2 linked regions of the Homo sapiens genome follow. The protein of the gene in region 2 interacts with the protein of the main gene of each other region in a pairwise test. Each region holds a gene or a part of one and is shown on either strand. Other genes may lie near its edges. The genes, in order: GYPC and TSPAN15.

Region 1 (8,084 bases), on a different chromosome or scaffold from region 2:
GGAAGAAAAAAAGTAGGATGCTTGGGTCTTTCCAAAAAATAGGTCCTCTCATGTCTGTCCAATCGTTGTGCTGGGTAATTGTCTATTTCTGATACCAGACCCAAGCTTGGCCGTAATCAACACCTTATTCTGCCATGAACCCACCCCCAAGGCTGCCCGCAGATCACCCCCATCCTAGTTGCTGAGCTCAGCATGATCCTAATCTCAACCTCAGAAGTATCCCTCAGCTCCAGCAAGGGGCAGGCTTTCATTCCAGGCCCCTTAAGCTGGATGCAGACCAACCACCTACTTTCTGGGCTGGATCTGAGCTCACTCAGCCAGTCTTCTCCAAAGACCTGATATCACTGCTGCTAGCTGAATGGGTACAGTGTAAGGGAGTGCGCCAAGGGGGGCTCTCACCCCTCCATCTCCAGAGGCTTCCGGAGCCTTGGAGCCGTGGATGGCAAGCAGACACTGGGGAGAAAGCTGAGAAGTGGGGAGAGCTGCCTTAGATGCTGAGCTCTCTGCCTGGAATGCTTATAGGCTTTGTGCAGCAAACTCCTATTTGCCCTTAAAGGACTAATCCTGATGTCACCGCTTCTGGAAGCCCTCTTTACACCAGCACTTCCCAGCCTACAGCATGAATCAGAATCTACTATAGTAATTACTGGGTCCCAGTCCTAGTGTTTTTCTTCAGTAGGTCTGGGCTGGGGCCTGAGAATTTCTATTTCTAACAGGCTCCCAGAGGATGCTGTGTATCCAGAGACTATGCTTTGAGAATTGCTGTCTCACAGCATCCACACCTTCCCAGACAGCCTTGAGCTTCCTCTCTATGCTGATTCTGATCTATCAATATAGGGCAGCTCTGGTTGGGCTGAAATGTCACTCCCCTGGAGTCTGTCACATTGTGAAACATGTGTAAATTCAGCTCCACACACTTGGTGGGGTGGGGGGCATGGAGAGAGTAGTTCCAGCTGAGGGAACTTTCCTGCCCACCACGCTCCTCAGAGGGCATGAGCTTGGAGGGAGCCCACATTGGGAGGCCCAGCTGGCAATCCCAATGGTCTCCCAATGAGGCCCCGAAGCTCTCAGGTCCTACCTCCCCTCCCAGCCTGGCTGCCCTGCTGGAAGTGTGTGTAGTCTCCCAGTATACAGATTTGAGTACAAGGTCCCTAACCAGAAGCCAAGAAATGCACCCCAAGTTGTTCAAGCCAAATATCTCACCTGGAAACCAGCTTACCAAGGCTCTACACTTTGCAGTGCCCTGTAAGGCTAAACACACTGACTCAAGGCTGCCAGGGCTTCAAATGATTGACTTCTGACTCTCAAGGTACAAGCCGGGGAAAATAACACTTTTCTGGGACGCAGCTGCCAAATCTGGAAAATGGGGCTAATAATAACTCCTATCGAATGGAAATGTTGCAAGGTCTGAGTTAAAATACATTAAATGTTGAGAGCAGCACCTGGCATTTAGTATGAAATTATTAACTGTTTTAAAGGAAGGGAAAATAACAGTCCCTTCTAACCCTGATTGTGTTGGACAAACTGTCATAAGAAATGCTGGTCTTTACCTGGAAAATTTCTAAGGGCAGTTCTGGGTATTTGAGCTTCTATAACCATCCATGCCTACTTAAGCAAGATGTTATTCTTTCTTTCCGAACTTTGAGGTGCATAGTGGTTAGAAAAGTCTAGAACTCCACCACTAAATCCATTCATTTATACATGCATGCATTTACTCATGCATTCAGTGAATATTTATTGAGTACCTACTATGAGCTAGATACTAAATTGGAGGCTGCACTTGTTCACTGTAATAAAGTCTAGCACCCACTTGAACTTGCTATGGCTCCTGCTTCAGGTCTTGCTACTGAGAAGCACTGTGAATGCTGGATCCTCTACCCTGCCTGGTTCCTGGTTCCCAAGGTGCTGACTCCAGACCCAGAGTTCACTGGGTCTCTTGGCGGCCTCAGTGCCTTGTATTATCTTCTTCCCCACCTCCAAGCTCCTTGGTGGCCCCAGACACCACTAGCTTGGCCCACCTGCTTCCTGCTGTGGACCCCTAGCTGGGAGTCTGTTTTCCCCTCACCCACTATGACTCCTGACTCCAGCAGGCAGTTACTTATAAGAAAGAGGCATCTGGCAGCTGCACTGGGGAGAATGACCTCATAGCACTATAATTAAAGTGATCATCTGAGTGGAAATGACTATTATGAAGCATCCTTCTCTGTTTTATTATGTAGAGCCATTGTAATGGGAATACGGGATTTCCTATGTTAATGCTGATATTTCTGTGATCCAATAAATCCTTCTTCACAATCATCTCCCAGAGGAAAGAAGGCATTCTGTGCAGCAGCTCTAGGAAACATCAGGTCCCCAATGTCCTAGACATCCTACCCTCTTTGGCCAGGCCATTAAGCTGTGAAAAAACACACTCAGTAACTTGGATAATGTCATAGAGTGGTCCTTCCCACAGCAGAGTCAATGTAAAGACCTATGGGAGGGCTTCAGGAATGACTCCTCAGACAGGAGCCCTGGGAAGGGCTTCTCCAAGAGAGAAAGTGCACTCCAGAGGCAAGAGCACTGGCCAAGTCCTGACCTGATACCGGATGAGCTGTGTGATCATGGGCACATCACGTCTCTGAGCCTTGGTGTTCTTCCTGTGAGATGGGCCAATAACACCAGGCACCTCATAGGATGGATGTGAAGACTGCATGATAGAGTAGATAGAAGGCAGTTAAAGCAACACCTGGTGCTATGGTTTGGATGTGGTTTGACCCTGCAAAAGCTCATGTTGAAATTTGGTTCCCAAGGTGGCAGTGATGGGAGGTGGGACCTAGTGGGGGATAGTTGAGTCACAGGGGCAGATCCCTCATGCATACATTAATACCCCCTTGAGGGAGGGAGGGAGTTCTAGCTGTCGTGAGACTGGATTAGTCACTGGAGAGCAGGTTGTTATAAAAGCAAATTCAGCTTTCTAAACTCTCTTGCTTTCTATATCACCTTGTGGTCTCTTTGCGAATGTCAGATCCCCTTCTGCTTTTTGCCATGAGTGGGAGCAGTATGAGGCCCTCACCAGATGCAGCTGCCCAATTTGGACTTCCCAGCCACTAGAACTGTGAGCCAAACAAACCTCTCTTCTTTACAAATTACCCAAGTATTCAGCTATAGCAACTCAAATTGGACTGAGACACCTGGTGTGAGCATCAGACACTCCACAAACATTCTTTCTTAAACACAACAAGAGTCCCTGCCTTCATACACAGCACAGATATCTGTTGAGCATCTACCACATGCAGGCACCACTCTCAGTGGAGGCATACTGCAGAGAACTTAAATGGGCCTGGAGTGACCTGGTGGTTCAGGTTCAAACAGTTCCATCCCAGTCAGTGACCAAGCAGAACCTGGTTCCTGGTCTGTGCACCCCTGCTAGGAGTCGGTGGGTGCACCACACTGTCTCTGTCCACTTGAACCCATTCTCAGAGCTGCTCACACCTGAGCAAAGGATGCAGCTTGGGCCAAGGTGCTGCTAGGCATGGAGAGTCTTCCTCTCTGACCTCAGATTCTTGTCCTCTGTTCACAGAGCCTGATCCGGGGATGGCCTCTGCCTCCACCACAATGCATACTACCACCATTGCAGGTGAGTTCTCATCACAGAGCCTCACCATAATGGAAACTGCCGTGACTTCAGATGAGCTCTCATCACAGAGCCCTTTAAGCAGCCAGGGTTGGGGGACTTGGTGAAAACATCCAGGGGAGAACTGACCTAAGGACTTGGACAGGGGTGGCTGTGGCCATTTTTTCTCTCCCTCAGAGGTGGTTTTGAATGTGGAATGGAGGAGTCTACCCCTGGGTAAATAAATATACATAGGTATGTCATATGTATCTGTATTTATATTTATTGGCCTTTCTCAGGGCTGTTGACTCACAGGAACTCAGGAGCTGGAGAGGCAGCAGTTTTGGTGAGGGAGGTTGAGGGTGGAGGTGAGATGAGGGTAGACTGACCAGGCTACTTAGACTTCTCCACCGTCTCCCTCATCCCACATTATTTTCTTCCCTGGGTCCATGACCCCCAACCCTCCATCCTCAAGGAAACTTGAGCCTGCCTTTGCCTTGCTTTGAACCCTGAGCAACGGGCTCCCCATGGGTCATGGCTGTGACTGCAAACTGTGTTTGAAGAACAACCAAGTTTGGGAGGTGCTGTGTGCTCTGCGACCTTCTTTGAGATCCACACTTCTCAGCAGCTTATTAATAACTCAGGAAACATCTACAATTTGAAAAGAAAGAAAAAGCAGCAGAAGCAAGCAATCAAAGACACCTGTTGGACTCTGTGTAACCTGGCATTCTCCAACTCATTGCACCACTGAGCTTTTATTCTTCCTAGGTGATATTATTAACATTATGCAGATACAAGTGTTCCCCTGAAGGCAGTAGGAAGTTTAGGAAATTGTTCTATAAAGGTGGGACTTGGGAGCAGTTTCAGACTTTCCATATTCTTCAGCAGTCCCTCCCCAAGGCCTCCAAATAAACCTGCATTCTAAGAAAAGACAGAGGCTTGCTCTGCAGCTTCAAAGTAAATGCCCAAACTCAAAACACCCCCACCCCATGAGACTGCTGCCCCCTCACTCTCAAGGTCCTGAGTGATCTGACCCCTCCTGAGCAGCCTTACACTGTACTTCCCCACCCCTCTGGAGTCCCAGCAGAAGTGAGGGGTGACTGCCCCTCGCACAGCCAACACCTTGGCATTCTCTGCGTTACCCTCTCCCACTTCAGTCCTTTGTGTGGCCAAGTCCTGCTCCTCCTGCAGACTCACCCCAGTCCTCAATCGCCAGGAGGGAATGGGAGCAGGGTAGGCTGAGGAGCAGTCATCGGGCCATTGAAAAACACAAACCACACAACCTGCCCCAAGCACAGTTAATAGCCTCATTTTTCCCCCTGTATAGTGTACATACAGCAACCAGCTCTGCCCTGTTTTCTGGGACTTCCCTGGTTTTAGAATGAATAATCTCCAAGCAGTGTTCTTGCAACTGTTGCAAGGACCATGTTAAATTGCTTTAAATGTTGAGACCTGCACCTGGCACCTAGTAAGCGATTGTTAGTTGTTTTAAAGGAAGAGGAAATAACAGTCTCTTCTAACGCTGATTGTGTTGGACAAACTGTCCTAATAAATGCTGTCTTCACCTGGAAAATTTCTGAGGGCAGTTCTGGGTATTTGAGCTTCTATAACCATCCATGCCTACTTAAGCAAGGTGTTATTCTTTCTTTCTGAACTTTGAGGTGCTTGTTGATTGGAAAAGTCTAGAACCCCACCACTAAATCCATTCATTTATATATGCATGCATTTACTCATGCATTCAGTGAATATTTATTGAGTACCTACTATGTGCTAGATACTAAACTGGAGGCTGCACTTGTTCACTCTATATAATAAAGTCTAGCACCCACTTGAACTTGCTACGGCCCTTGCTTCAGGTCTTGCTACTGAGAAACACCGTGAATGCTGGATCCTATACCCTGCCTGGTTCCTGGCTCCCGAGACCCAGATCCTGAGCCAGTGTTCACTGGGTCCCTGGGCTGCCTCAGTGCCTTGTATTATCTTCTTCCCCACCTCCAAGCTCCTTGGTGGCCCCAGACACCCCTAGCTTGGCCCATCTGTGTCCTGCTGTGGACCCCTAGCTGGGAGTCTGTTTTCCCCTCACCCATTATGACTCCTGACTCCAGCAGGCAGTTACTTATAAGAAAGAGGCATCTGGCAGCTGCACTGGGGAGAATGACCTCATAGCACTATAATTAAAGTGATTATCTGAGTGGAAATGACTATTATGAAGCATCCTTCTCTGTTTTATTATGTAGAGCCATTGTAATGGGAACGTGGGATTTCCTATGTTAACACTGATATTTCTGTGATCCAATAAATCCTTCTTCACAATCATCTCCCAGAGGAGAGAAGGCATTCTGTGCAGCAGCTCTAGGAAACATCCCGGTCCCCAATGTCCTAGACATCCTACCCTCTTTGGCCAGGTCATTAAGCTGTGAAAAAACACACTCAGTAACTTGGATAGTGTCATAGAGTGGTCCTTCCCACAGCAGAGTCAATGTAAAGACCTATGGGAGGGCTTCAGGAATGACTCCTCAGACAGGAGCCCTGGGAAGGGCTTCTCCAAGAGAGAAAGTGCACTCCAGAGGCAAGAGCACTGGCCAAGTCCTGACCTGATATCGGATGAGCTGTGTGATCAAGGGCACATCACGTCTCTGAACCTTGGTGTTCTTCCTGTGAGATGGGCCATTAACACCAGGCACCTCATAGGATGGATGTGAAGACTGCATGATAGAGTAGATAGAAGGCAGTTAAAGCAACACCTGGTGCTATGGTTTGGATGTGGTTTGACCCTGCAAAAGCTCATGTTGAAATCTGATTCCCAAGGTGGCAGTGATGGGAGGTGGGACCTAGTGGGAGATATTTGAGTCACAGGGGCAGATCCCTCATGCATACATTAATACCCCCTTGAGGGAGGGAGGGAGTTCTAGCTGTCGTGAGACTGGATTAGTCACTGGAGAGCAGGTTGTTATAAAAGCAAATTCAGCTTTCTAAACTCTCTTGCTTTCTATATCACCTTGTGGTCTCTTTGCGAATGTCAGATCCCCTTCTGCTTTTTGCCATGAGTGGGAGTAGTATGAGGCCCTCACCAGATGCAGCTGCCCAATTTGGACTTCCCAGCCACTAGAACTGTGAGCCAAATAAACCTCTCTTCTTTATAAATTACCCAAGTATTCAGCTATAGCAACACAAAATGGACTGAGACACCTGGTGTGAGCATCAGACACTCCACAAACATTCTTTCTTAAACACAACAAGAGTCCCTGCCTTCATACACAGCACAGATATCTGTTGAGCATCTACCACGTGCAGCACCACTCTCAGTGCAGGCATTAGGCAGATAACTCAAATGGGCCTGGAGTGACCTGGTGGTTCAGGTTCAAACAGTTCCATCCCAGTCAGTGACCAAGCAGAACCTGGTTCCTGGTCTGTGCATCCCTGCTAGGAGCAGTGGGTGCGCCGCACTGCTCCTTTCCACTTGGACCCATTCTCAGAGCTGCTCACACCTGAGCAAAGGATGCAGCTTGGGCCAAGGTGCTGCTAGGCATGGAGAATCTTCCTCTCTGACCTCAGATTCTTGTCCTCTGTTCACAGAGCCTGATCCAGGGATGTCTGGATGGCCGGATGGCAGAATGGAGACCTCCACCCCCACCATAATGGACATTGTCGTCATTGCAGGTGAGCTCTCATCACAGAGCCCTTCAAGCAGCCAGGGTGGGGGGCCTTGGTGAAAACATCCAGGGGAGAACTGACCTAAGGACTTGGGCAGTGGTGGCTGTGGCCATTTTTTCTCTCCCTCAGAGGTGGTTTTGAATGTGGAATGGAGGAGTCTAGCCCTGGGTAAATATATATATACATGCATACATCGTACGTATCTATGTATGTATTTATTGGCCTTTCTCAGGGCTTTTGACTCACAGGAACTCAGGAGCTGGAGAGGCAGCAGTTTTGGTGAAGGAGGTTGAGGGTGGAGGTGAGATGAGGGTAGACTGACCAGGCTACTTAGACTTCTCCACCATCTCCCTCATCCCACATTATTTTCTGCCCTGGGTCCATGACCCTCAACCCTCCATCCTCAAGGAAACTTGATCCTGCCTTTGCCTTGCTTTGAACCCTGGGCAAGGGGCTCCCCATGGGTCATGGCTGTGACTGCAAACTGTGTTTGAAGAACAACCAAGTTTGGGAGGTGCTGTGTGCTCTGCGACCTTCTTTGAGATCCACACTTCTCAGCAGCTTATTAATAACTCAGGAAACATCTACAATTTGAAAAGAAAGAAAAAGCAGCAGAAGCAAGCAATCAAAGACACCTGTTGGACTCTGTGTAACCTGGCATTCTCCAACTCATTGCACCACTGAGCTTTTATTCTTCCTAGATGATATTATTAACATTATGCAGATACAAGTGTTCCCCTGAAGGCAGTAGGAAGTTTAGGAAATTGTTCTATAAAGGTGGGACTTGGGAGCAGTTTCAGACTTTCCATATTCTTCAGCAGTCCCTCCCCAAGGCCTC
Region 2 (8,084 bases):
GCCGCTGGCTCTTGGGGAGGAAAACTTCAGACTACAGCTGGCACAGGGTCAGCTGTGGTTTACCTGAGGTCCAGGGCAGGGCCCCTGGCCATGCTTCCGTTCCATAGACCACTGCTCCACCAGCGGAGAGTGCTGCCAAAACTTCCTTCTTGGGAAGAGAGGTGCTCTCCAGAACTCCCGACTACTGATTAATTTAGGCATAGGGAAACCTGTGGTCACGCCCTAGACCTCATCAAACCCCTCCCCAGGCAGGCCCTAACTCACAGGCTGCCGCGGGCACTTCCCATCACCACCTGTGCCCCGCAGGGTCTCCTTCTCCAACCACCAGGGAAGAGAGTGAGACTTCCTGGTCCAGCCCATGACCGTCCCCCCCAGCCCCGCTGCTCTACATGTAAGTGAACGCTGCCGTGAGTGCTGCAGGCGCCAGTGATGACTCAGGAGGGCAACAGCAGAGCCCCCAGCGTGCCCTCTGGTGTCACATTTCCTGGGTCCAGATCTTGCTCTGCCACTTAGGAGCAGAGCCCAACCTTAGGTGGGCTGCTAAGGAACTGGCACGCAGAGGTACTCAATACATATTTGTTAACTGAGAAAATGAATGAATGAATAGGTTGTGATGATCACAGAACCCACCTCCTAGGGCTGTTTTGGACATAAAGTGAGATACACATATAAAGTGCTTATCACGGGGCTGGGCACATGGAGGAGCACAAGAATGCTGGCTGGCGTGATTTGTTCACAATTCCAGCCCCTGCAAAGGAAAGGGAGGGTGTCTTCTCTCCTTCCGAGAGAGGGTTGGGCCTCAGATGTCATCTAGGTCATTCTAAATGTCAGGGCTTGATGTGCAGGCAAGACGACCTCCCTCGGTTTAGCTGGTTCTCCAGGTAGCCTCAGTCCCAGCCATGCCCAGTGCCCACTGGGCATTAGTCAGCCAGTGTTTTTGGCCCTTCCAGGCCATAAACACAACCCCTATGGAGAGGGTCAGGCCTGGAGAGCAGGTGCACGGGCACATGATGGGAGTGAGTGCTTTCCATCTCATTGGTTCATTCATTTGTTCATTGAACAAATATTAACTGAGCACCTATTGCATGTCAATCCCAGTTCTAGTCACTTGAAATACAGAACAACAAGACAAAGTCCCTGCCTTCATGGAACTTACACTGTAGAAAGGGAGATAATGAACATAACAAATAGGTAAGCTGCATGGTACGTAGGGAGGTGACAAGAGTGACTTCACTGGGCCAGCTCTGGTGACCTCGGGGGATGAGTCTCTTAGCACACAGGCAACTGGCAGAGGCCTCTCTGGCATCAGAGCCCAGAACCCTTCTCCAGGCCCAGGGGGGACTCACCTCACCCTGCCAGGAGAGCCCCTCACCAAGGGGTGAGGGGATACGATGCATCCATAGTCTTTCCAAAAGTAAAGCCTGCCTGGGTTTACCTGCCTGACCATAGAATCGATATTCTGCAAGAGGCTCTGCTGAAGTTCACAGGCCCCAAGACCAGGGTCCAGTAGCCTCTTCCATCCTGCACGGGGCCACAGGACAGGAAGTCAGAAGGGGGACTCCTGGGCAGCCAGAAGATCACAGCAATGTTTGTGTGTGCATCCTCTCACCCTGAAAAGACTGAGCAGCTAATGGGGACAGGGAGAGGGGCCTTCGCGACAGGCCCCCAAGGGGTAGCCAACAACAAGGGAGGGGAGGTACGTGAAAATTGGTCCCAAGAGCTCAGCAGGCACAGCAGTCTGGAGCCATTTAATGTAGAAGCACGCTGCCCTCTGCACCAACATCTCCGAGGGATATATCCTGGTATAACCAGATTTTACAGCCCTATGTGAACTTCTATGGCTCAAATCCTCTATTGGAAGCTCATATAAGACATTTCTTTTAAAGCTGAGTGTTAGGGAAAAGGTTACTTTCCCTGAAGAACTGGTATGTTCTGCTGGTATGTTCTGCTGAACAGTAACAATGTAACAGACCATGTCTCCCTTTTCCTTTTGGTTGCCAGGAAACTCTAAGCCAGTGGTCTCCAACCTTTCTGGCACCAGAGACTGGTTTCAAGGAAAATAATTTTTCCACAGGATGGGGTGCGGGGGGGTGGGGGGTGATGGTGTCGGGATGAAACCATTCCACCTCAGATCATCAGGCATTAGTTTGATTCTCATAAGGAGCATGCACCCTAGGTCCCTTGCATGCACAGTTTACAATAGGGTTCACACTCCTATGCGACTCTAATGCTGCTGCTGATGTGACAGGAGGTGTAGCTCAGGTGGCAATGCTCCCTCAACCTCTGCCCACCTCCTGTTGTGCGACCTGGTTCCTAACAAGCCACTGACCGGTACTGGTTCATGGCCTGGAGGTAGGGGAGCCCTGCTCCAAGCCACCAGACACGAGGCTCAGCTCCTTTTCAGTGAGTCCATGAGGTCCTGAGGCTTAGATAGCAGGATTTTATATTTTTCTCCATCATCTAGGCCTCCTATCTGAGAATACAATTCCCACAGTCCTGATTTTTAATGCTATTTTAGTTTTTTACACTACATATTTCCCGTGTACTCATTCAAATCCCAGGTTGAATAGTACAGTGTAAAATAAATAGATCTGGACACAAATCAACCAGTTCTATGGAGGAAGCGAACGCCCTGTTTCACATTTAGAGAAAATCATCCAGGTGTGGTGGCACAGGGAGACTCAATGGTCATGTGTAACACAGGGTCAGATAACCCCGGCCAGGGGAAGGCTCCTCCCTACCTCAGTGCTCTCATTCAGATGCTGTCTTTAGATTCTACCCTATCTGCAGATGATGTCCGTGTTTACACCCCTTGCCTAGTCGTTCCCAGAACTCCAGACTCCTATATCCAACCGCATCTTTGACACCCCTGATGGGATGCTGAACAGGCTCTCAAACCCCCCACGTCCACGGTGAGCTCCTGGTCACCCAGCCTGCCTCCTTGCAGTCCTCCCCTCTCAGGCAGTGGCAGCCCCGTCTTTCCTGTGGCTCAGACCAAAACCTGGGTATCCTCCTTGATTTCTCTCTTTCATTCATCGCCCACATCTGCTATGCGAGCAAATCCTGTAGGCTTACTTGCAAAATACAGCCAGAATGTCACCACGGTTTGCCACTTCCACCACCACCACCACCACCCAGCTCCAAGCATCTGTCTTCCCCTCCCTGGTGCAGGGATGCTGTGGGGAGCCCTTAGGTGTCAGCCCCCTGCAATAACTACTTCATGTGATCATTAATTTTATATGTCAACATGACCAGGCCATGGGATACCCAGATATTTGGCCAGACATTATCCTGGGTGTCTCTGTGGGGGTGTTTCTGCATGAGGCTAATGTTTAAATCAGCAGACTAAGTAAAGCAGATGGCCCTGCCCAAGGGGGAGAGGTCTCATCTGATCAGGGAAGGCCTGAACAGAACAAAAGACTGCCCTCTCCTCAGTGACCATAAGAGAATTCTCCCTGCTTGGCTACCTTCGGGCTTGAACTGAAATGCTGGCTCTTCCTAGGTTTGAAGCCTGACCAGCCTTTGAATGGGAACTCCACCCTCAGCTCTCCTGGGTCTCCAGCCTGCCGACTCACCCTGCAGATCTTGGGACTTGCCCGCCTCCATAATTACACAAGCCAATTCCTTATCATCAATCAATCCCTCTCTTTCCTCTTGCTGTATTAGTCTGTTCTTGGCTGAACAGAGCCAGCAAGTCCCTTCTTGGGTGGACCACTGGACTCATGCAATGCCTGGTCAATGTGGGTGGGAGTGTGAAGGCCTGGCCCCCTCACCCCAGTAGGGGACAACTCTGAAGGGCTGTCCTCATAGATGTGGCTGAGGCCTCCAGCCGAACTGAGCTGAGGCTGCATCACTGCTCAACTCCCTTCATTGCCCAATCCCGCTTCTGGCTCCCACTTCCACAGGTGTTGATCCAAGAGCACCTTCCTGGACAAGATGACCTATGACCCCTGGATCACTGCATATCAGCCCCTAACTCTATCCCTGCATCTAGCATGTCCCTCACAACAGCCAGACTGATTCTTGTAAAACCAAGTCAGAGTGCCCCTCTTCCATGCAGCCCTGTATGGTCCATCACTCAAGGGTGCCCCACAGTCCTGCCTGTGGCCTTCGGGGTACCCATGACCTCCCTGACTCCACCTCCTACCATCCTCCGCTGTGCTCCCTCTGCTCCAGCCACTCTGTGCATTTCTCAAACGCCCTGGGGTGATTCCCACCTGGGGCCTTTGCACAGCTGTTCTTGCTGCCAGGAATGCCCCTCCCCCAGACACCTTCCTCACTTTCTTCAGAGCTTCACCCAGATCCCGCCTTTCTCAGTATCCCAAACTGCAATCCTCCATGCCCTACTTTCTTTTTCTACTCAGCATTTATGATCCTCTATCTTTTACTTATTTTGTTTGTCAGTTTTCTCCACTAGGATGTCACCTCCTTGCGGGCAGAGACTTTGTTTGCTACACCCCCAGAACCTGGAAATGTGTCTGGCATAGAGTAGGTTCTCAGCCAATATTTGTTGAATGAATGAATGAATGAATGAATACAAGTTTGGCTTCCACATCTCAGCTTAGGTATTCAGATGCTGCTGCCCTGGGTGATGAGGTTCAGGATCACCCCACGCAGGCCTCTCTGGAAACTCTGCTACTCCTCAGCACCCCACTTCCCAGAGAACTACCCTAAAATGGCAGCTAACACTTCCAAACAAAGCTTCCCTCCTGGCCCGGCCTTTTTTAGAGCTAGTGCACTTGGCACTGGCTCTCTGACTCATGGGCGAGGCCCCCACCCGCAGCTGCTCAGTTTACAGAATCCAGCAGTGGGCACAGAATGGTGGCAATGTCAGGAGAAAAACTTTCCATGACTATCTGGGCCATGAGTAATTGCAAAGCTCTCCACCTCGTTCCAATCCTGAAACAGTTTCTGGACACATTTGTCAAACACAAGGACTGATGAAGCCTTTCACTTAAGCGCTGACAACACAAGACATCATCCCAAATGACCAAGGTGACAGACCCGAGAGGATCGTGCTGGGGAGAGGAAGAGGATGGCATTTACGTCACCAGACCCCCTTCCAAGCACTCTGCTGCTGATGATCACCAGGACCTCAAGGCCAAAGACCAATGGAGATGCCCAAGGTGCAGGTCCTGCCTGCCTCCACTAATGCTGCAGAGCCAGCTACCCCCGCTAAGCTCCCCTGGCCTGGGCACCTCTCCCTCCTGCCCTCACCTGGCCTGCACAGTTCTCCAGAGTGTAGCTCAGGCAACAGCTGCCTGCACTTCATCCCAGCCCTGCCAACCTTGGGCAAGACACCCAGCCTTTGAGTGCCTCAATTTCCTCATCTGTAAAGTGGGTAAAATAACAGTACATACCTCACAGGGTTGTCGTGAATACTAAATGAGTAAATACCACCAAAGTGCCCAGAGCAGGCCTGCACAAGGTAGGTGCTCAATAGATTTTAACCAACACCACTAAGAAAGACATGGTCTCCCTACCCCCGACCCCCAGAAGCTCCACTTTCAGGAGCCCTTGAGAATCAGGAAAGCCTCCGCTCTGCCACCAACTCCTACTTCCCTGCCATCCACCCACACCACCCATCTTCAAGTTGGGAAGAGAGAAAAGAGAACATTTATACCACCTGGGGTCCCCGACAGCCCCCCAGTCCCCACAGGAGCAGTGTCTACCGTGTTCCTGATGCAGCAGGTGTAGGGCACCCCACAGGCCAGGGGTCCAGGGGCACTGCAGTCGTGGTACTGATTCTTGCTCCAATCTCGGTAGTCCTCCCCGCCACAGCACTTGAACTGAGGGAAGCAAGCAGGAAAGAGGAGCTGCCGTCATCGCCCAGGCCCTGCTCAGACGACAGGAAGGGGCCCTGTCAGGAGACGGAGGCAGTTTATTATGTGGGTCACCCTGGGGCAGGGAGAGGCTGTACACTTTCAAGTCAGAGCTGTCAAAGTGTGGCATGGCTGCCTAGAGGGTAGTGAACCCCCTGTCACTAGAGAGGTATGGAAGCCAAGGCTGGGCTGCCTCTTGGTGGGATATCAGGGTAGTGACTAGGCACTGGGAGGAAAGGTCCTTCCTTGACAACTGGCCTCCACTTTCTTCATCTTCGTGTCCCCAAATGCAGGTGCTAGGCTGGAAAAGATGGCCCTTAAAGTCCCAGAGACCAAGCATGATTCTGTGAAAGTCCCTGCACCTCAACCAACCTTCGCACCCACCCTAGGAGCCACCCCGTCCAGCTCAGCTGGCCCTGCCCTTAGCAAGGAGAGCACCCACACCTCACAACCTGCCTGGAGCTCTCCCCTTAGCCGAGCCCCTCCCTGCCTCCCCTCCCTGCTCCTGTAGGAAGTAGTTGGTAACCCTCCTGATGGCTGGTATGTGCCTGGCATTGTCCTGGGCACTGGAGAGACAGGGTGAGCAAAAGCAAGGCAGCCCTTGCTCAGGTGGAACACATTCCAGTGGAGAGACAGAGAGTGAGCACTGGATGGAAAGGTGCTGTGCAACCTGGAAATGGAGAAATAGGGGGAAAGTGGGGAGGGGCAGCTCTAGGTTGGCAGGTCATGAAAGGGCTCTTTGTAGAGAGGATATTTCATCTGAAACATGGAAACAGAAAGAAGCCAGACGACCCATGCAAAGGCCCCACGCAGAAACAAGCTTGTATTTCAGCAGCAGGTGCGGAGGCCAACAAGCCTGGAACAGAGAGAGTGCAGAGCATGAGGATGAAAGGGCGGCACAGGCTGGACCATGCAAAGCTTTGCCAGCCAGCTGAAGCAGGGAGCTGGGACTGGAGGGCTCAACCAGGGCTGCAGTACACGTCCTGGTAGCCAGACACCTTTCAGAGTCCCCACAGTGCCCCTTAAGCCACCAGGTTTTGGGACCTAGAACTGTCTTTCTGCAATGTAGTTCAAAGGGCATTTGTCTTGCAATGGAACAGACCCAAGGTCAAATCCTCAGACCACCACTCCCTGCTGTGCAACCTCAGGCAAGTTGGTCAGCCTCTCTGAGCCTCAGATGGTTGTCTGTAAAGCAAGAATAAGGATGGCAGCTCTGCACAGCTGAGCTGTGATTACATAGAGTGCCATGCATGAAGCACTCAGCACTGGACCTGGCACCAAGCAAGTGCCCATTCAGCATTAATCACCTCCTACCTCTATGCCAGGAGAAATGAAATCCCCAAGCCAGCTAAAGGCTGGTTCCAATAAAAACATCTCACTCCACCCGGAGCAGAAGTCAGCTCTCCCAGCCCAAGCTGGCAGGCACATCCCTGGCAGAAAAAGACCTTCCAGAGGCTGCACCTGTTGTGACTGAAGAGAAAGTCTGGGCCAAGGGAGCGGCCACAGCAAGTGGCCCTGCATGTGGGGAGAGGCTAGTCCCCACTGAGAGCTGGCACAAGGATCCAGGCCAGCTGAGGCCCCCAAGATTATGTCCCAGGAAGTGCTGTCCCGGCTGAGTGGGCCTGCAGCCCTCACTCTACTTGTCCTCACCCAGGAGAACATACCAATGATCCCCACAGCTGGCACTGTGGTCTCACCCTGTGCTTGGCACTGTTCTAAGCACGTCTCCTGAATTAAGTCAAGGTAATCCTCATGACGACGCCCCAAGAGCTCCTGTCATTATTCCCCTTATGTAGGTGAGGAAGCTGAGGCTCAGGACCAAGTGAAGTTGATGTACAAAAGCCACCCAGGACAGCAGCTGGCCCTACCACTGCCATTATTATTATTATTATTATTATTATTATTATTATTATTATTATTATTATTGCACCAACAGATTTGGGTGGACCTAGAGGGGAGAGATGGTGTCCCAAAAGGAATAGGATCATCATCACATTCAAGGAAGTGTCATGAAAGTAAGAGAGGCGTCTGGTTCACTGTCCCATATTTGGGGGAAACTGAAATTAGTGAAGAACTTTCTCCCAATCAGGGATGTCTTTAACTTGACAAGGAGTGAGTTGTCACTGAAGAGACTTGGCAGAGGGGGCTTTGGACTGGGGTAGGTTACTCCCCTTGAGGTTGCTCACACCTCAAGGAAGGAGGATCCTTGCCCATTGGAGGGTGGTGCCCTGGGACCCTGCAAGGTTGCTTGTAGCAACACCT

The links.
Region 1: the proteins of TSPAN15 (region 2) and GYPC interact in binary tests that used the Homo sapiens proteins (3 or more experiments, as listed by UniProt).

What each region holds. Positions count from the first base shown.
Region 1 is NC_000002.12:126,686,696-126,694,779, forward strand, and holds part of GYPC (glycophorin-C), read left to right. Parts: intron 1-3,559; coding exon 3,560-3,616; intron 3,617-7,168; coding exon 7,169-7,252; intron 7,253-8,084. UniProt on the Homo sapiens protein: This protein is a minor sialoglycoprotein in human erythrocyte membranes. The blood group Gerbich antigens and receptors for Plasmodium falciparum merozoites are most likely located within the extracellular domain.
Region 2 is NC_000010.11:69,495,985-69,504,068, reverse strand, and holds part of TSPAN15 (tetraspanin-15), read right to left. Parts: intron 5,861-8,084; coding exon of another isoform or gene 5,790-5,860; coding exon 5,673-5,789; intron 1-5,672. UniProt on the Homo sapiens protein: Part of TspanC8 subgroup, composed of 6 members that interact with the transmembrane metalloprotease ADAM10.